2 separate regions of the Homo sapiens genome follow, and region 2 is linked to region 1. The links come from fine-mapping of genetic effects on gene expression. Tissue or cell type: esophagus muscle. Region 1 holds a variant in brackets; the other region holds the start of a gene. All regions are shown on one strand. Distances are from middle to middle.

The links. PIP is the estimated chance that this variant, and not a neighbour inherited with it, causes the effect.
Region 2: it holds the start of SAP30L, and the variant in region 1 is fine-mapped to the expression of SAP30L in esophagus muscle (GTEx, PIP 0.95).

Annotation. Positions count from the first base shown.
Region 1 is chr5:154,406,939-154,417,798 of GRCh38, forward strand. GALNT10 (polypeptide N-acetylgalactosaminyltransferase 10) reads left to right here. Exons shown (of 12, transcript NM_198321.4): 9 at 2,603-2,824; 10 at 5,951-6,067; 11 at 8,845-8,994; 12 at 9,876-10,860. The coding sequence ends at 10,034. The region is part of intron 2 of SAP30L-AS1 (SAP30L and GALNT10 antisense RNA 1); the gene reads right to left. Among named protein-coding and RNA genes, the nearest start is that of SAP30L-AS1, 33 kb to the right of the region's middle. RefSeq lists an enhancer at 3,446-3,946. The variant A/T (reference allele first, on the strand shown) is at 5,010.
Region 2 is chr5:154,441,047-154,450,325 of GRCh38, forward strand. It overlaps SAP30L (SAP30 like), which reads left to right and starts at 4,951. Exons shown (of 4, transcript NM_024632.6): 1 at 4,951-5,759. The coding sequence starts at 5,559. SAP30L-AS1 (SAP30L and GALNT10 antisense RNA 1) reads right to left here and starts at 4,776. Exons shown (of 3, transcript NR_037897.1): 1 at 4,692-4,776; 2 at 2,316-2,434. RefSeq lists enhancers at 4,575-4,694, 4,748-5,248 and silencers at 4,825-5,354, 5,485-5,594.

The DNA.
Region 1 (10,860 bases):
ACGGACTCCGGAAGGACAAACAGCCAGACAGCCTTGAGGTAGAAGCAGTTCAGGAAGGATGAGCTGTCCACCAGCTTGCCTGCCTCAGGAACAAGTAGCCAGTCTTACATTGTTTACTAAACTTGCTGAAATCTTTCTTATCTTTGCCTCTGGAAAAAGGATCTTAGGGAAGGCAATAACAGAAACTACTCAAACTTGGTGAAACAAAAATGGAGACTTACTCCAAGGATCCAGGCAAATCTCTGTAATCCAAGCACAAGAAGTACAGTTGGGCCTCAGACGGGACTGGGACTCGGAAGTAGGAAGGTGTTGAGAGTAGAGGTATGAGGAGCCCGAAGCCCACTGAAATCCCAAGGTCCTTTTTATGTCTCTAACAAGGGGAGATGTGAGAGAAATAAGTGTAAAGTCATTTCCTTTGGTGCAAACAGTGAACTGTAGCAAAAAAGTTCAAAATCTGGGAGAAAGAGCTTTTCAAGCTGTGTCTGGAAGATACAATTATGCAATATTAATTAAAATGGTAATTATAATTAGAATTAAAATATGATGTTATTCAATCCTTTAAGAATGACACTGGTAAATTTCAGTATCATTCTTAACCAGTCTGGCCATGGTCAGAGTGTCCAGACTTGTTTTCAGTTGGAGTGAAACTACCCTCATTACCTCTGTGACTCGAGCAGGTTAGACAGTGAGCCAAAAGAGCCTGGTGGACATACTGGAAAAAGCAGAGGAAATATTGTGTTTCAGAGTGTTCATGTAGACAGTCTCTGTTAGGCCTTCAACTTCCTCTAGCACAGTTTTAAATTAAACACAGCCTTTTCTGTGCAGGGGCCTGGTGGGGATAAACACTGTTCCTGAGCTGTTTTCTAACCCACTGTGGACTCTTCAGCACTCAGGAAGAACTAGGTAGCAACAAGGAAATTCAGCTGTTTCCTGGTCCCCAACTCAGAGCCAGCAAAATGGGGGAACTGGTGAATTTTGTCTTCAGTGCGGGGGCCTCCCTCATGTTGGCTTCCTTCTCCATTACTCCAGAGTCAGCAGCCTGTTTTTGTATGGCCTGTGACCTAAGAATGGTTTTTACATTTTTAAATCATTAGAGGGAATGGGAATCAAAAGAAGAATATTTTGTGATACATGAAAATCAAATTTCAGTATCCATAAGTTTTACTGGAACCCAGCCACACCATTTATATGGTGTCTATGGCTGCTTTATAGCTACATCAGAGGTGAGACCATATGGTCTGCAAAGCCTAAGTATTTACTATCCGGCTCTTTATAGAAGACATTTAAACATTTGGGACCCCTGCCTGACCTTCTGCTCCTAGAGCAATCCTTCACACTGAGGTGCAAATGACTGATAACAGCTTAAACTGCTAACTCCCCTTTAACCTTTCAGAGGAAATTTTAGATTGCAATAGGGAAAAAACTTACGAAGGAGGTAAAACCGAAGAGTTAAAATTGGGGTGGGGGGACAACAGCCAGGGGTTGAAGAAAGATGTTTTGGAGCGGAGAATTTCCCCTGAACCCTGAAGTTTTGCTCTCAGATATATCACATATCAGAAGTTCTCACTGGGTGGGGTCTACACTGCAGATGGAATCAGGAATTTTCATCACATACATAAGAATTCCCTCTTCCTCTGTCCCCAAGTCTACTCACAAACACTTTCCTCACCTGCTGCCTCTGCTTGCCAATCATGTGGCTGTCATTTTTTAAAACTGATTATCTTTGTGCTTCATGATGAAAGTAGCAGCAACCTTTGCACCTCAAAGGATTATTAGAAATTCCAGCTGCTGATGGAATTACACCTTTTGGTTTCAAATTATAATTTGCCTTTATCACATAGCTTGGTCAAAACTCTCAGTTGAAAATGACAAAAAGCCAAATCAAATTGGCTTAGCGAAGAAAGAATATACAGGCTTCTGTAACTGGAAAGTCCAAGGTAGCTCTAGCTTCAGACATGGCTGGATTCTGGTGTTAAAAGGCGGAATGCATTCCTGGATCCAGCCCTCCGCTCTGCTTCATTCTGGGTTGATTTCATCCTTGGACAGGCTCTCCTTGTCTCTCCTTGGAGGCCATATGGCCCAGCAGCTCTGGCTGGCATCCTGTCTTACCCAGCAATCCAAGCAGAAACAGAACGATTCTTCCAATAGTTCCTGCAAAAATCCCAAGGCTGATGCCTGTTGGTTGTGATTGGTGGGGCTTAGGGAATGGGTCTGCTGTTTGACCAGCCCCTGCACCGGGGGCGCCTGTATTCACATTAGCTAGGCTGGGTCCATGCCTTTCCTCCTGCCACATGAGCTGACAGGGAGACAGGGTGGCTCCCCAGAGGAAAATCAGTGGGGGCTATCGCTAGAAGAAGATGGGATGGAAGATGGGCAGGCAAAACAACAGCAGCCTATGGGCCAACTATAAGCTGTGAAGCCCTTAAAACATGCATAATGATAAATAGAAACACAGAAGGCCTAAACTCACGGTGGGGCTGGGATTTTTGATGGAACATAAAATAAGAAGGGTTGACCTCGACCTGCCAGGACCCTTTTCACCCCACTGCCTGGCTTTGGCTTCTTGGAAAGACTGACCCCTCCATTGCTTCTTGCCCCATAGAACCTTAAGCGGGTGGCCGAAGTGTGGATGGATGAGTACGCAGAGTACATTTACCAGCGCCGGCCTGAATACCGCCACCTCTCCGCTGGGGATGTCGCAGTCCAGAAAAAGCTCCGCAGCTCCCTTAACTGCAAGAGTTTCAAGTGGTTTATGACGAAGATAGCCTGGGACCTGCCCAAATTCTACCCACCCGTGGAGCCCCCGGCTGCAGCTTGGGGGGAGGTGAGTCTGGAGGGCAGGGCTGGCTCCATAATTTAATGGGTGTGCAAAATGCAAATGCAGATCCCATGTTCAAAAGGTAGAAAGTCAGTGCAGGGAGGAAAGGCGTGAATATAAAATCGTTTCCTTTCTTTCCTGGTCTCTCTCTAGCCTTGTCATGGTGTATTTTTACTTGTTAGTTAGTGTTCTCAGTGTAGAAAAATTAAAACTTTAAGTTATTAGCATGAATTTTACCTTTCATCTTTATATTATGCAGTGACAATTTAAAATTCAGATTAACAGCATGTAACTCATGTTCAGAATGGGTGAAATGACATGATCTGTATTTCCCACCTGCTGCATGCATAAGTATTTCTCACCAGAACAATCTAAACATGGCACACAACAAACTCAGCTTTTTACTTCACTTCTTGATAATGTGCATATTCTTCCAACACTCTCCACCTTCCATTTACTGATGAGTAAGAAAGGGCTGGAAGGCAAAGGAACTAAGGAGCCAGGCACAGTGGCTCAGGCCTGTAATCCTAGCACTTTGGGAGGCCAAAGCAGGAGGATGACTTGAGCTCAGGAGTTTGACAACATTTTCCTATGGGAAACATAGGAAGACCCTGTCTCTACAAAAAAAAAAAAAAAAAAGAAAAAATTAGCCAGGCGTAATGGTATGTGCCTGTAGTTGCAGCAACTTGGGAGGCTGAGGCAGGAGAACTGCTTGAGCCCAGGAGGTCGAGGTTCCAGTGAGCTGTGCTCGTGCCACTGCACTCCAGCCTGGTGACAGAGCAAGACCCTGCCTCGAAAAAGAAAAGGAACTAAGGGTTGCCCTATCTTTCCCTTTCCTTCATAAGTTCTTGGCTAACACGGGGCAGTAACGCAAGTAAGAAAGAACATGACAGGACTTGTTGGTCGTTCCTGCTTCTTAGGATGCTGTTGCCCTTCTTAGCACACCCAGAGCGAGTTCCGGTTTGAAGGGAAAGCAGGGCCTCTGGGACCCCCAGCGCCCCTATTTATTCAGTGTCTTCGCACATGCTGCATGCAGACAGGGCAGAGAGGAACAGCGTGCTTCTCTGCTCATGCACACGCTCCAGTGTCCCATCAGATTTCACTTACAAAACAGTTCAAAGATAAAATTATTCAGAATTTCAAGACAGTGGCAGCAGAGCTTTAAATCAAGCCAGGCCCTCCTGAGCATGGGGACCTGTGAACTGCGCATGGTGTGGCCCGTGAGGCCCATGCTGGCCGAGGCAGACCAGTCTTTGCAAGCAGACGAGCATGCCACCATGGGATCCTGGGTCTCTGAGCTGAGAGGACCTACCCATTCATTGATGGATAGGTTGGAGCTTGGAAAAGGGGAGCATAAGAGTTGGGGCTCTTTCAGAAGACCAATTTAAAGTAAAAAAAAATGGGGGGAATATATTGTGTTTGACTCACATATGAGCCTGGGGTAGCTATGGCTTAAGACAACCTGGATCCAGGGCTTCAAATGATGTCAGTCTCTTCTTCTCCTGCTGAACTCATGTTCCTTTTGTGTTGGCCTCATGCTGAAGGTATCAAAATGGCTTCCAGAAGCTTCAGGCTGACCAACCCCTACTGCTTGGCCAACCCAGCAGAAAGTATATGCCTCTTTCCCAGTATACCAGTAAAGGTGCAGGAATCAAGTCTTATTCTTGGATCCTGCACCCATCACTGGGGCCATCGGGGAAGACGAAAAGCAAGGGTAGGATGGACACTACGGCTGGCCACAGGGCGCGTGAGGAGCAGTAGCCCCATGGAAAGTCAGGGTGGTGTTACCAGAGGAAGGGGAGAGGCATGGTGGGCTGGCAGGAACACCAGCTGTGATTTGCTCAAATTCACACAGCAGTCACAGAGCCCTTGCCTGGCTCAGCTGCCTGGCTAGCCTACCCCAACATCACCTCCAGTTTGCAGGAGCACTGCTGTGTGGACTTCCCTCATGAGGCTCTTTGGCTCTTTACTAGTTTGTTGGCTTCCTCACTTGTGTTAGTTCAAGTCCTCCAAGAAGCAGATGCCACAGTGGGATTAGACACGCAAGAGATTTATGGTTAAAACACTTGAGAGGAAAAATGAAGACACCTGGGGAGACTAGGAGAGCCATGAGACCACAACAGTGGTCTTACATCTGTGAAGGGGTGAGGGAAGGAAGGAGAGCCGGGATAGGAAGAGTCCAGACTGCAGT[A/T]AAGCTGTAAGGAAGCTTTGGCCAGGTTGATGAAGAGTCCCCAAGCCAAATCACCAGCCAGAGGAGTTCAACATCTCGCAAGAGTGGGTCTGCCTCACCCATTGGCTGGGATCCATCCATGGGTGGACACAGTGGTGGATTCAGAATACAGGATCTGGGTGCAATGAGACTCTCTGCAACAGGAAATTGGGTGGTGCATTTTCATAGCCACCACAGCCCCCTATCCCTCAGATAAAGTAGGATTGATATCTGTAAGGTTGGAACTACATGATGTGACGCTATGCACCTAGCACAATGGCCTGCCCACAGTAAGTGCCCAATCGGTATTTGTTGGCTAAGCAAGTGAGCAGCCTAGGGCTTCAGACTCCTAGCCCAGTGCTCTTCCCACCACACCCGTCTTCATGGTTGAAGGGGAAGAGGCAACTATTGTTCTTTGGATCTCAGCAGGGGGTGAGGGGGCCTCCTGCCACCTCTTGCCATTCACCTGTCCTAAGGGACAGAGACAGTCCATGACATACAGCAAAGGTTTCATGTCCTTTTCTAGGCGCTTTCAAGGTATGGTCCCTGGACCACCTGCACCTGAGTCACCTGGAATGGGGGTAAAATCTGGTTCCTGGACCTGTCGGTTCAATTTCTCCAGGAGTAGGGCCAGGGAGTCCTTTACCAACTCCTCACCTCCACTCCCCCACCACCAACCCAGGACTCTGCATACTCTACAATACTACTTACAGCAGTGCTTTAAGGATTACATTCTGTGGACTGAGTCTTCCTTCATTGAGAGGCTCAAGGTACTTCCAACAGCCCAGGGCAAGCTTTATCAAGACGATTTGAAGGTTAATCCAGCTAATGTCTCCCACTTGGTTTCCCCTTTCACCTGGCAGGGACCCGGTGGGCACCTTAAGGCACCTCAGTGGTCCACTTCTTCCCTCTTTCCCTTTCAGATCCGAAATGTGGGCACAGGGCTGTGTGCAGACACAAAGCACGGGGCCTTGGGCTCCCCACTAAGGCTAGAGGGCTGCGTCCGAGGCCGTGGGGAGGCTGCCTGGAACAACATGCAGGTAAGGGCCGCCCCTCAGGGACTGGCAGCCAGGTTCTCTGAAACATCTGCAGCCTGGGGTGCTGACACGGCCAGCTGGGAGGGAGAGGCATGGGTCAGTGATAAATGACAAGAGTCAGCCCCGGGGATGAGTTTTAAGATCTTCCTGAACACCGTGGAAAGGGGATTCCTTCACATTGCAATAAAACCATCAGTCTGGACCATTTTGGTTACAAATGATGGACACTCAGCCCAAATGGCCTTCAACAAAAAGTGCGTTATTGTCTCATGTCCCTGAAAAGCCTTGATGATGTTGCTGGATCTCTCAAGAGAGTGCTTCCCTCTCTGCGGGCCTCATTCTCAACCTGGCCCTTCCTATATAGTAGCAGATGTGGCCATCAGCAGCCCCATGGATAGGCATGCCACTTCCAAGAGTTCTGGAAAAGCCCTGGGGCTCCCATGAATTGTGTCCCTGAGCTGATTATGCAGGAAGTGAGGAAGTCCTCATATTGATGAGGACAGAGCCGTCACTTTTGAGAGGTGATGGGTGTGTTCATTACCTTGACTCTTGGAGCCTAGGGGCATGGTCAGCCTCACCTGCAGGATGGGTGGGATGCAGAGGGTAAGCCAGCCTGCAGGAAGAGCCACTGCTCAGACAATAGTGGGCTCATGCCTGCAATCCCAACAGTGTGGGAAGCTTAGGGGAGGCTTGCTTGAAGCCAGGTGTTCGAGGTTACAGTGATTGTGCCATGCACTGCAGCCTGGGTGGAGTGACATTGGGATAAACAATTATATTTTAGATACAACAACAAAAACACAATCCATAAAAGAAAAAATTGAAAAACTGGACTAATTCAAAATGAATAAAAAGCAATCCACAGATGGGAAGAAAATGTTTGTAAAGCATATATCTGATAAAGGACTTGTATCTAGAATATATAAATGAAAGGACTTGTATCCTCTCAAACTCTCAAAAGTCAATAATTTTTTTAATTTTAAAGCGGGCAGATACTTTACCAAAAAAAATATATGAATGGCAAATAAACATATTTAAAATGCTGAATTTCATTAGTTAATAGAGAAATAGAACTTGCAATTACAAGGAAATTCCAGCACACACCTATTAAAAAGACTGACCACACTGAAGATTGGCAAAGATGTGGATGAACTGGACCTGTATGCTGCTGGTGGGAGTGTAAATGGCAGAGCCACTTTGGGAAACTGTGGCAGTTTCTTAGAAAGTTGACCATTGAACCAGTCATCCCACTCCTAGGTATTTATCCAAGAGAAAGAAAACATGTGTCCATACAAAGACTTGTACACTAATGTTCATAGCAGGTTTATTTGTAATAGCCAAAAACTGGAAACCACCAAGATGTCCTGTAACAAGGAACTGGAGTGCAAATTCAGCAATAACAAGCGATGAATTATTGATAAATGCTGTTAGGACATAGATGATTCTCAACAAAATTATGTTGAGTGAAAGAATGACACAAAAGAGAATACATACTGTATGATTCCTTTATAGAAAATTCTAGAAATTGCAAACTAATCTCTAGAAACAGAAAGCAGATCAGTGGCTGACCTAAGGACATGGGGGTTGGTGGGGACAGGAGGAGGAGATTACAGAGGAGCATGAGGACACTTTTGCGGGGTAATGGTATGTTCATTACCTTGATTATGATGATGGTTTCTCGGTGTAAACATATGTCAAGATGTATCAAATTGTACACTTTAAATGTGTGCAGTTTATTGTATGCCAGTTATTATTCAGTAAAGCTACTGAAAAGTAACAAAGGTTATCAACCAAATGGATCTTGACTCAGACTAACTGTGAAAAGAAATTGATAAGAATCCTGAGCAGGCACGGTGGCTCACGCCTGTAATCCCAGCAGTTTGGGAGGCCAAGGTTGGCAGATCACCTGAGGTTAGGAGTCCAAGACCAGCCTGACCAACGTGGTGAAACCCCTTCTCTACTAAAACTACAAAATTAGCCAGGCGTGGTGGCACACACCTGTAATCCCAGCTACTTGGGAAGCTGAGGCAGGAGAATTGGTTGAACCCAGGAGGTGGAGGTTGCAGTGAGCCAAGATTGCACCATTGCACTCCAGCATGGACAACAAGAGTGAAGCTCCGTCTCAAAAAACAAACAAAAAAAAGAATCCCAAGAACACTTGAACTGTGGATATTTGATGACATTTTGGACCTTGTAGTAACTACTTTTAGATGTTATAATGGCACTTACTGAAGTGTTTATACCTGACATGATATGATAGCTGAGATTTGCTTCAAAATACTGTGAGGGTAAGGATAGGGGTGGAAGTAGAGCTGCAACAACGTTGGCCTTGAGTTGGTAACTTATTTTTTTTTTTGAGACAGAGTCTCACTCTGTCCCCCATGCTGGAGGGCAGTGGTGCAGTCTCGGCTCACTGCAACGTCTGCCTCCTGGGCTCAAGTGATTCTCATTGCCTCAGCCTCCCGAGTAGGTGGAATTACAGGCATACGCCACCACACCCAGCTAATCTTTGTATTTTTAGTAGAGACGGGGTTTCACCACGTTAGCCAGCCTGTTCTCAAGCTCCTGGCCTCAAAGTGATCCACCCACCTTGGCCTCCCAAACTGCTGGGTGAGCCACCGCACCTGGCCAAGTTAGTAACTTTTAAAGCTAGGTGGTTAGAACAGGTTAATATATTATTATTTGGACCTCTGAGTTTAAATTTTTCCATAATTTAAAAAAAATGGAGAAAAAAAGAAAGTCCTTGGCTTTGCTATCCCTATTTATGATGCCCCTGTGCACAGGTATTCACCTTCACCTGGAGAGAGGACATCCGGCCTGGAGACCCCCAGCACACCAAGAAGTTCTGCTTTGATGCCATTTCCCACACCAGCCCTGTCACGCTGTACGACTGCCACAGCATGAAGGGCAACCAGCTGTGGAAATACCGCAAAGTAAGATGGGATGCGGGGGGAGCAGGGCACCTGCTTAATTTTTTTTTAAGGCAATACAGTGCTTCACCCCTTCTTTCAACAGAGCCCATCCACTTATTCATTTGTGCCACAAACCTACCATGCCGGATTTTGTAGTCATTCAAGAGTAGTCAGAAATCTAGACTTCACTGTGAAATCCTCAAGTCTTAAATGTTGGCAACTGATTCCATTTAAAAAGAAAAGTGCAGCCGGGCACAGTGGCTCATGCCTGTAATCCCAGCACTTTGGGAGGCTGAGGTGGGTGGATCACCTGAGGTCAGGAGTTCGAGACTAGCCTGGCCAACATGGTGAAACCCCGTCTCTATACAAAAATCAGCCAGACATGGTGGCTCATGCCTGTACTCCCAGCTACTCGGGAGGCCGAGGCAGGAGAAGCACTTGAACCTGAGAGGCAGAGGTTGCAGTGAGCCAAGATTGTGCCACTACACTCCAGCCTGGGTGACAGAGTGAGAACCTGTCTCAAAAAAATTAAAAAAATTAAAAAAATAAAAGATAAAAGGAAAGCACATACACACACACACACACACACACACACACACACACACACGATAAGGACCAGTGAGGTCTGACAGGAGGTGGGCAGTGTCTAGGTCCCAGGCCTGGAAGCTGCGTGCATCACTTCTGGCCACATCCCAGCGGGCAGAACCCAGTCCCACGGCAATACCAGCTGCAAGGGAGGCTGGGCAGCATCCGGCTTGTGAGCTCAGGAGGAAAACCAACAGGTGTATGAACAGCTAGTCAGTCAGTCACTTCCTCACTTTCTCATTGCTGGTATTGTTGCTGTGGTTTGACTGGCCACATGTCTCCAGTGCTGTCTGGCTTATTACCTCCATGTTTTGTAGGACAAGACCCTGTACCACCCTGTCAGTGGCAGCTGCATGGACTGCAGTGAAAGTGACCATAGGATCTTCATGAACACCTGCAACCCATCCTCTCTCACCCAGCAGTGGCTGTTTGAACACACCAACTCAACAGTCTTGGAAAAATTCAATAGGAACTGAGCCCTCATGTCCCCTTGGCAGGCCCCCCAGGGTCTGGCACTCACTGCAGACTTCCTCTTTCAAGGGAGGCAGGGCCCCTGTGGGCACTAGGTGTAAAAGGTGCTGGCCAAATGGTTCAGGGTGAAGAGGGCTCTTGATTCAGGGGCTGGGGTCTGCCTGGTCCTTGAGCCCCTGAGTTGTGGGGGTAGGGTGAAGAGCATATCCCACAAGAGGCCCCACAGGGAGCAGAGACTGCTTTAATCCCTGCTGACATCACGGAAAAGCAACAGAGCCTTTTCAACTTTGTCACTATGTCCCCTTGAACATTATGTGGGAGAACACCAAGGTAGCCTAGGCCACCCAAAAGTGAGTCCTGCGAGGTTGCCCAGCCCTCAGATGGCTCTCCTACATGATGGTGCTTTAGAAACAAAGGTAAAATTTGCCTGTTTGGGGCAGCTTTTAGTATCGATGCCACTCATCTGCAGCAGAAGAGAAAGAAGTCCTCTTGGGGCTTTTTAGTTTCTGCCGTCCTGGGGGGAACATTGCAGTTACTGCACAGCTTCTGTTCTCTGTCACAACCCCAGGTGATTTGGTCCGGTCAAAGGCCATACTTGGGGCCCTAAGAGTGTTCAGTATTGAATGCTGATCAGCTGCCAGGTGAGGAGTCAGAAGAGGGAGCCCCCCTAGACATTTCTTTGCAGCTATGGACATGCGGGATATCTCCCCCTGCTCTCTGGGTATTTGAAATGTCAATTTTAGCACTCTCCAGGCACAAGGACAGCCCAGCACCAGCTTTACAGGGCAGTGTTTCAGATGGCCCTGAGCCCACGGAAAAGGCCAGGTAGAC
Region 2 (9,279 bases), 33 kb after region 1:
CTAAACCTAATTATGACTAATTAAGCCAATAATAGTATCTAATATTTATTGAGTACCTAATATGTGCAAGGCACTTTTATATCTAATAGTTGGTTTATATCTAATAACTCAGACAGTCTTCACAACAATCCCGAGAGGTTACTATCATCCCCATTTTACAGATGAGGAAACCATGGCAGACTAAGGCCATGTAATTTTCCCAAGGTTCCCAGGCTAGTCAGTGGCAGAGCCAGGATTCCAGCATAAGCTGACTACATCTAGATTTATACCAACCATTATGCTGTACTGCCTCTTGATTCCAGAGGCCAAGTCATCCATCATCCATCTATCCATCCATTCAACAAATATTAATCAAGTGCCTGGGCACTGGAAACTATGATGAGCCATAGAGACAGTTCCCTGTCCTTGCAGAACTTCCAGTCTCAGAACAATGTGAAAGGAAAATGAATCTCGGGACACCAAAATCACTAAGGCAAAGGGAAGAGTCAAGCTGGAAACTGCATCAGGCAAACCTACCTCTTATTTTATTCCTAAGTTAGATAGCTACAAAGATAAAAAAGCTACAGACCTCCCTCACAATTTGCCCACAAGGAAATTCCTTGTGGGCATCAAGATCTTTACCCTAAAACAGTTCTGTTGAATTTCACCCTGGCAATGTAAATGGATAGCTTATCTTCATAGGTGTGGGACAAAGGACAGAACTCAAAGTCATCCCTCTGCTCACCTGAGACAAATGAATATCTGATTGCTTCTTCTGCCCTGTTGTTTATGTAAAAATGCAGATCCACTGAGACAAAGGCATAAATGACTATTCCTCTACCACCCACCTCACCCCTTCCCCACATGTAAATTGTATATTCAGTGAAACGCTGAGCAAAGACTCAAAAGAATGCAACCATTTGTCTCTTATCTATCTATGACCTGGAAGCCCCAGCATCAAGTTGTCCTGCCTTTCCAGATGGAACCAATGTACATCTTGTACATATTGACTGATGTCTCATGTCTCCCTAAAATGTATAAAAGCAAGCTGTATCCCAACCACCTTGGGCACATGTAGTCAGGACCTCCTGAGGCTGTGTCACGTGCACGTCCTTAGCCTTGGCAATATAAACCTTCTAAATTGAGACCTGTCTCAGATACTTTTGGTTCATGCCAACATATCTATGAGTACCTTACAGAACCCAAGGGCAAGCTCAACTACCAGGCCCTGGGGAACACAGGAGGCAGGACCCACCATTAGTGCCTCTGCTCTAACCACTCCCACCAACCACCTGTCAGTTCCAACCAGCAGATTTGCTGGAGAGAAACTGACCAGTACAGTTTGAGCCACAGGCTTAACCCAGCAAGTATTCACTATTAGACAATCAGGGGCCACTCAAGGATTAGAAACCCAGTCACTGGACACCTAAGTGTCCACCTGTTCCCAAAGAAGGGCAGTCATTGGAAATCACTCCCAGAGCCATATGCCACATTCCCCAAAAAGGGAAAAGAGGAGAGAAAGAGGAGAGCAAAGAGCTTTTGTAGGACTGTGACTGCTTGGCCAAGGTATCCAACTCTGATTCTTTAAGGCGTGTTGGGGGATAACTTCTCAACTGGGGCCTGACTGGATGGAAGGAATGAAGGTGGGGAGGGCAGGGGCAGAAAAGACAGGAAAGAAAAAAAGGGTCAGTGAGCCTGGCCCTTAGACCTTGGAAAACTTTGTAGTCTTTGACCACAATTCCATCTCTGGCACTCAGAAAAAATAATAATCCTAAATAATAAAAAGTTTTATGTTCAAAAATAATTATACAGAACCACACAAAAAAGATATCCAACTTCTGGGGGGGCAAATGTAACTACGGTAGGAATCATGATAGCTGACATTTATTAACCACTTATGATGTTCTAGGCACTGTGTTAAGAATTTGTCACCACCTATTTCATCAGACTCAAGAAGTGAAATAATTGCTAACATGTTATAACAAGTCATGGGTGGAGTCCAGATCTGAACCCAGTTCTGACAGCAAAGCCAACTGTCTTTAGCACCACAGTGTACTGTACTACAGAAACTGCACTGTACTACATAAAAAATGGCAACTGTGAAAACTACATAGCAATATGGGGAAAGATTATGATAAAGTATGCCTTGAATAAAGACTACAAAATTATACATAAAGAATGGCTGGGAGCGGTGGCTCACACCCGTAATCCCAGCACTTTGGGAGGCCGAGGCGGGCAGATCACCTGAGGTTGGGAGTCCGAGACCAGCCGGACCAACATGGAGAAACCCCATCTCTACTAAAAATACAAGATTAGCCGGGAGCAGTGGTACATGCCTGTAATCCCAGCTACTCGGGAGGCTGAAGCAGGAGAATCGCTTGAATCCGGGAGGCAGAGGTTGCGGTGAGCCGAGATCGCGCCATTGCACTCCAGCCTGGGCAACCAGAGTGAAACTCTGTCTCAAAAGAAAAAAGAAAAAAGAAAAAAAAAGAACAGTTACAAGCATGAACTCCCCCACCACCACCACCACACACACACACACACACAGAGGCTGGCTGGGCGTATCAGGCTGGGTGTAATCAGGAAAGAGTAACCTTACAGTAATTTGAACAGGAAAATAATAATATAAACATGTATTAATTATAATAGGGGACTGTAGTCCCCTACAGTTATAAGGAACTGCCTAGTAAAAAGAAAAAAGAATGCTAAATAATACAAGAATAGCAGATATAAGTAGCCACTACCTCAAGGACTGAGACAGAGCACCTAAGAAAAGGTCCTAGATCCCCTTAGACCAGGGCAAGTTGGTGCAGAAGAAGTTGTGTACCGCAATAGCCTAGCATTGAATACAAATGCTGTTTAGAAAAATATGGGGAACATGGAGGTTTCATCCATACCAACTGACTTTGGACCCAACATCACACAGTGCCTGGTACAGATACCCAAGTGTTTTCTACATATATGTCTGAACACCCCAGATAGGAGATATTCTTTTAGGGCAAGGGTTATGTTTCATCCTCCTCCTATAGCCAACCCTATACTTGGTATACATAATGAGTTCAACAACAATTTACTTTTGAACAGAATATATGAACTCTGAGGGAAGACTCCTATTAATCTGTGCCTTTTTTCCATTAATTTTTATTCTATTTTTTCTACTGTAAAAACAAAAATAATGCTTATTAAAGAAAATGCAAAGGTTAAACAAAAGGAGAAAAATATCAGCCATATTCCTGCTACCCAGAAATAATCACTGTTAGTACTTTGGTGCATTTTTTATACCAATAGTTTTCTTTTTTCTTTAAACATAGATGTACAGACATCGTATCCTCCATGCAATTTCATATCCTGAATTTTTTTACTTATCATAAAAAAAGCATTTCTCCAACTCCTCATCAGCTCTTTATTTAAGAATTAATGGTGAATTATTCTCTATAGAAAATGTTTACATTGATGTTGAAACTACCTCAAATGCTAACTGCACAATCTCTTTCTGAAGATTTTAGGTAGTTTACTTAACCACTTCCCTTTTGGAACTCTGAGGTTCTATTTTATTTTTCCTATTATAAATAATTCCATAATGAACATCACTGTACTTCATATTATCTCTGATAGGCCTATTTCCGACGATGGCTGTCCCACGTGTGAAATTACCAGTTCAGATGCTACAAATGCATTTATGGCCACTGAGCAAAACTTAAGATCACCAGCCACCTGCTTCTAAACATGGAAACTGGTAGCTTTCCCTTTTACAACAGGACACAAACCCGAAGCTCCTTCTATGCCCTCTAGTACTAACACTTGCTTACCTATCACCTAACACAGCCTCCCCTCTTCCCTGCCCATAAAACGCTGCCCAGCCCTACATAATTACACGACCCTGGGCTGGTCCCATCGCCTTTCGGACCTCATCAGTCCCCATGCTGCGCAGTTGGAGAGTGGCATGACTGAAGTGCTGGACCAGAGCATATCCTACGGCCCCTCCTGGAGGGGAGGTGGTGCCCTGGGCGCCGAAACCAAGCGCAGGGTCTTGGCAGGGCGCAGTCGCTTCGCCGGTAGACCCGGGGACTCAAAGCAATAGAACTACAGCTTGGAGCTCCAGGGAGAGCCCAAGACACCGCAGCCCTTCCCCATCTAGATTCCGAGATTGGCCCCTGGGCCCCACTCCCAGCCTTCACTTCATCTCCCCTGAAGCCCTTTCTCTTGCCCGCGGCTCACCTAGTCCACCCTCCAGACCTCATTCGGACTTCCCATTCTTCCCAGTGGAGGGGTCGCCCAAACCCCTCGGGGTCTCCTTTCCCCCTCTCCTTTTCTTTCCGCGCCGTCCAAGCCAGTCCCACTCTCCACACTCTGGAAGGTATCGGCTACCCCCAATATTGCGACTGCCTTGCAAGATCCCCCCATCACCTCCTCCGCATGTCTTTCCACGTATCTGTATGGGGTTGTCCCTCTGTCTTTCCCGCCATGACTGGCTTTCCGTCCTATTTCACCCACCCTTCCTCCCACGGATCCGCGAGTCCTCTGGCCCTGGCCCTTTCATTTTATTAGTCCGCCCCTCTCCTGATAGCACCTCTATCCTCTTTAGGTCCCCTCATATGCCCCTCCTCCAAGTCTGTCCCTCAGCGTCCCCGTCCGCGTCTCTACTGTCTGTCCCCGAATGTGTTCCTCTGTTCCTGGAGTCTGGCCCTCGGTCCAGCCAGGCCCCTGCTCACCATCCCTCCCCCGGGCCGGAGAGTCTGCAGCCCGGTTCCCGGTTCTCGCTGGGGTAACTCTTTCCTCTTCCACTTTCTCTACTTTGAACCCATCCCAGCAGAGTCCAGGAAGTAGCCTGGCGCCGGAGACTGGCGGCGGCGACGCCCAATGGGACGCGCCAGCGGCGGCGGCAGCCCCGCCCAGAGAGCAAATGAGACCAATGGTCGCGTGAAGGCGGGACTTCCGCTGTCCCGCGAAGGGCGGGGGGAGCGAACTGTTGTGGTGCGGAGCGTTCGGCGGGCGGCGGCCGGGCGGCCCAGGGGCTGCCGCGGGACTCGGGGCGCAGCCGAGTGGCTGCAGGGGTGGAGTGGGCCGGACGAGCCGCGGGGCCCGGGTGCCGCGGGTTCGAGGCCGGGCCCCGCGCGAGGAGGCCGCGCCACCCCGGGGGAGCTGCCCGGCAGCGAGTTTGCCCCGCTGCCGAAAGAAGGCGGGAGCCGGCAGGGGCCTTCGAAACCCCCTGGCAACCCAGGCCCGGAGTCCTTGGGGAGCGGCTGTTTCCTGGGACGCCCTCCCGGACACCCCCGCTGCAGGGTTACGGTTCTGGGCCCCCGGCAGAAGGCTCCTCCGGGTGACCCCCGGCGGGGCCCTGCGAGCCGCGGGAGCCGACCCCGGGGCCTCGAGCCGGGAGGAAGGGGGCTTCCGGAGGCGGAGGGCCGGGGGCCGAGGGAGCCGGGCCTCTCGGACGCGGGGCAGGGCAGCGCCCGGGCTGGAGACGGACTCTGGGACCCTCGGCTGCGGGGGTCTCAGCGACCTGCCCCGCGGCAAGCGCGGCCGCGGAGTGGCCTACCGGGGACCCTCCCCCAGAGGGACCGGCCCGGGGCGGGGAGATGAACGGCTTCAGCACGGAGGAGGACAGCCGCGAAGGGCCCCCCGCCGCCCCAGCTGCCGCCGCCCCGGGCTACGGCCAGAGCTGCTGCCTCATCGAGGACGGCGAGCGCTGCGTCCGGCCCGCGGGCAACGCCTCCTTCAGCAAGAGGGTCCAGAAGAGCATCTCGCAGAAGAAACTCAAGCTGGACATCGACAAGAGCGTGAGTCCGCCCCCGCTCGCGTCTGGGCCCCGGCGCCCCCAGCTCTCCGTCCGCTGCCCTGGGCTCCAGTCGGGACTCCCCGGGCACTCCCCGCCGTGGGCCTCGCCGCCCCGGCTCTGCAGAACTGAGTTGGACTCCGCATTTCAAAGGCCGCTCCAGCGCTGACATGCTCTGACTGTGATTCTACCCAGATCCGGGAGGATGGGGGCGGGGGCTTCAGGACTCCTGCTGCCTGGAAAGATTGGACAGCAGTTTCCAACTTGTTTTATTGGTTTAGACTTTAGAGCAGGGAGAGGTGGGTTAGTTTTGTTGGCCCTTGAAGGAGCAAGAATCGGAGCGGGGAGTGATGAAGATACCCGGCTCTTTTCCAACTTCTCTCTCCTTCTAGGAACCCTGTTATTCCTTCAGACAGAGAAAGGTGGCAGTTACTTCCCTGGCTCCCGCATCCTCGGTATCAGCAGAGGGTCACCGAGCTAGCTGCTTCGCAGGCAGCTGTGGGAATGGGTTTTTCTAGGATGTGGCAGAAATAAGGCCAAGGCCAGGTCTTGAGAAATGGCTCTTGCAGTCGATGTGACTGGAGGGGGGAAGAAAAGAAATCAATTTTCTTAGTGGTAGTTTCTTTTGAAATAAGGGGGTGGATATTTAAATTTAAATCGGATTGCCCTGCTCTTTGTGGCTTATTATAGGAAACTCCTCCCGTGTGACTTCACCACTTCTAGTTAACAATTCTGAAGCTGTGCCTATTGTCAACCAATTAAGAACTTTTTAGTTTGACATCTGTTGCTACAAGCCTTAAGTGATTGCTTCATGATTAGGAATTGGAAATGAGTTAAGGGGATATTTAATATTCAGGTAGACTAGCTAAGAGCTTAGGTGGTTAACATCCATTCTCTTCTAGAATCAGAATTTCTCCACAGTTGGAGGAAATCAGAGACTGCTTGTTAAACTGAAAGGGAGTGCACGTTTCCCCTCTGATTTTAGGGTTGAAACAGGCCCAGAGATAGGAAGTGAGGGTGTCAGGTACACACAGCACCTAAGAGGCTGGTTAATTTCTTAAAGATATTATCTAATTTACTTCCAAGCCCTATACATAAGTCTTCATTAAGTCTCTAATAAATAAAAAATCTCCCCTGTCCTTTTTCTTTTCTTTTTTTTTTCTTTTTCTTTTTTTTTTTTTTTTTTTTTTTTGAGACGGAGTCTCACTCTGTCACCCAGGCTGGAGTGCAGTGGCAAGATCTCGACTCACTGCAACCTCCGCCTCCCGGGTTGAAGCGATTCTCCTGCCTCAGCCTCCTGAATAGCTGGGATTACAGGCGTTTGCCGCCATGCCTGGCTGATTTTTGTATTTTTAATGGAGATAGGGTTTCGCCATGTTGGACAGGCTGGTCTTGAACTCCTGACCTCAAATGATCCACCCGCCTAGGCCTCCCAAAGTTCTGGGATTACAGGCGTGAGCCACTGCGCCCAGCCCCTGTCCTTTCTTCAGACTCTTCCCTCCTACCCCCATTTTTAAGTTAATCATTATAATACAGTTGCAGCTCTTGCATGGACAGGTGCTATTTTTAAGTGGTTGGGAGAGAGTTAATGGCTTTCTTACTACAAATCTCTATCAATGAATGCATGAATGGAAATATCTGAGAACAAACAAGGGTCTAGACACCAAGGTGATCCCTCCTTAGGTCACACGTTGAGGTGAAATGCTTATGGCAATGAATTCATCCACTTAGAAACACTGCCTACCTTCCGTGTAGGTTGTTAGAAGCTGCTTTACTTGAGCAGCTTATAATAATAATTTCCAGTCCTTAAAAGAATCTTCCAGTCCTTTTAGATCACTGGATGCCTTCCCATCTGAATGATTTTGCTGCTGCAACTGGGACTCCTTTTATTTACCCATTGACTGTACTGGAAAACCTGTGTTGAGCTATGCTGATCATTTCACACACACTGTCTAGAAGAAGGGCAGCCTGAGCCTAGCATTAGTGTTCCCAAAATGTAATACTTCTGAGGTAGTAAGGTTTCCAGGTGGAATCACTCAAAATTTGTTTTAAGGTGGTGTTGTGGAGTCATTATTTCTGAAAGGGATTCTATTTCTTTCTCACAGGCTTGGGCAGGAATTCAATTCCAGGTAACTGGTATGTTACAAGAATTTTTAGCTATTGCAGAAAGTGAAGGAAAAAAAAAAACTAGAGCCTTTGCTACCACCCTCCTGCCCCAACCCCACTCCCAAAGGCCACTGAGCTCTGAAATTTCTGAAAACCAGTATGTACTTGAAAATGGTTAAGGAGAAAATGATTATTTATCTTGTAAGAGAGTCTAGCAGAGAACCTTTTTAAATAACAACACCAGAAATTCAATTCAGGCTGTTTAACTCATTTTATATAGACTTTGGCAGTGTTCTGTGATCTGTTAAAATACTAATATACCTCCAGTTGACATATTTCTGCTTTTTTTTTCCTGGAGAAAAGTGGAAGTTGAGAATAGTATAAAGGAAAATGCTGGAGTAGGAAAAGACATGTACTGGGGGGGCAGAAGGCCTGGGTGACCTTGGCCAGGTCATTTCCTCACTCTGGATGGCTTCATTTTACCCATTTAGAAAACGGATTGGGGTCAATGGGATTGCACTAGTGATTGCTAAGTTCTCTTACAGCTAGGATTCCGTTATTCTATTGTCCTGATCTGAAATCTCCCAGCCAAAGCTTTAGGAAGCCACCTATTCTCCCTGTTCTCCTATGAAGTTTGTTACTGTGAACTTGAGGAGCAGTTGATCTGAGTGGACTCGCCAGTCTAGCTAACATGGAGGGCTAGCTTCCTCTCAGGGATGCAGAGTGTGCTTTGTTGTGCTTTCTTCCTGGAGAAAAGCATGTCCAGTAGTATATACATCAGCTAGGTGGGATTCTTTGGGACAGTGGCATGTGCTGTGTTTGAAAGTCCTTTGACAGAGTTGAATCTGACAAAGCTATCCCAGTTTGTAACCATGTTAAGTGGTGGCTTTCATTAGCCTTAAGCCACTTTTAGATATAGGAGACTTCCTATATTGGTACATCAACATTTTTCGAGTACCTCCTGTCTGCAAGACACCATCACAGTATAAACTTAAAAGTACTTATGACTCACTAATCCAGCCACATGAAAGTGATCATTCATCTGAATAAATAAATAAACAGTTTTCATTATTTTCTCCATGAAAAGGTCTGAATTAATTGATGCGGATTTCCTGCCAGCTTACTTTTATCTTTAAGGATTTAAGGAATAAACTCAAATTCAGAAGTCTCTGCAGAACATTTGTGCAACAGCTGTTTCAGTATCAACAACCCCAAGTCATTTGCTGGGCATTCAGTTTCTGTAAAGTTTTTCAGTGGTTCCTCCAGCCAGCCTTGGAGGATTCTTCATGTCTTAGCTGTTGCTGCCACCTTCACTTACCAGTGTGCCTCCAGCCTGTATTAGAAAATCTGTAGTATCCACCTTCTTGTATGTGGTTCTACCTTGTAAGAACTTCCACATCTTTTTCCACTTTTCTTTG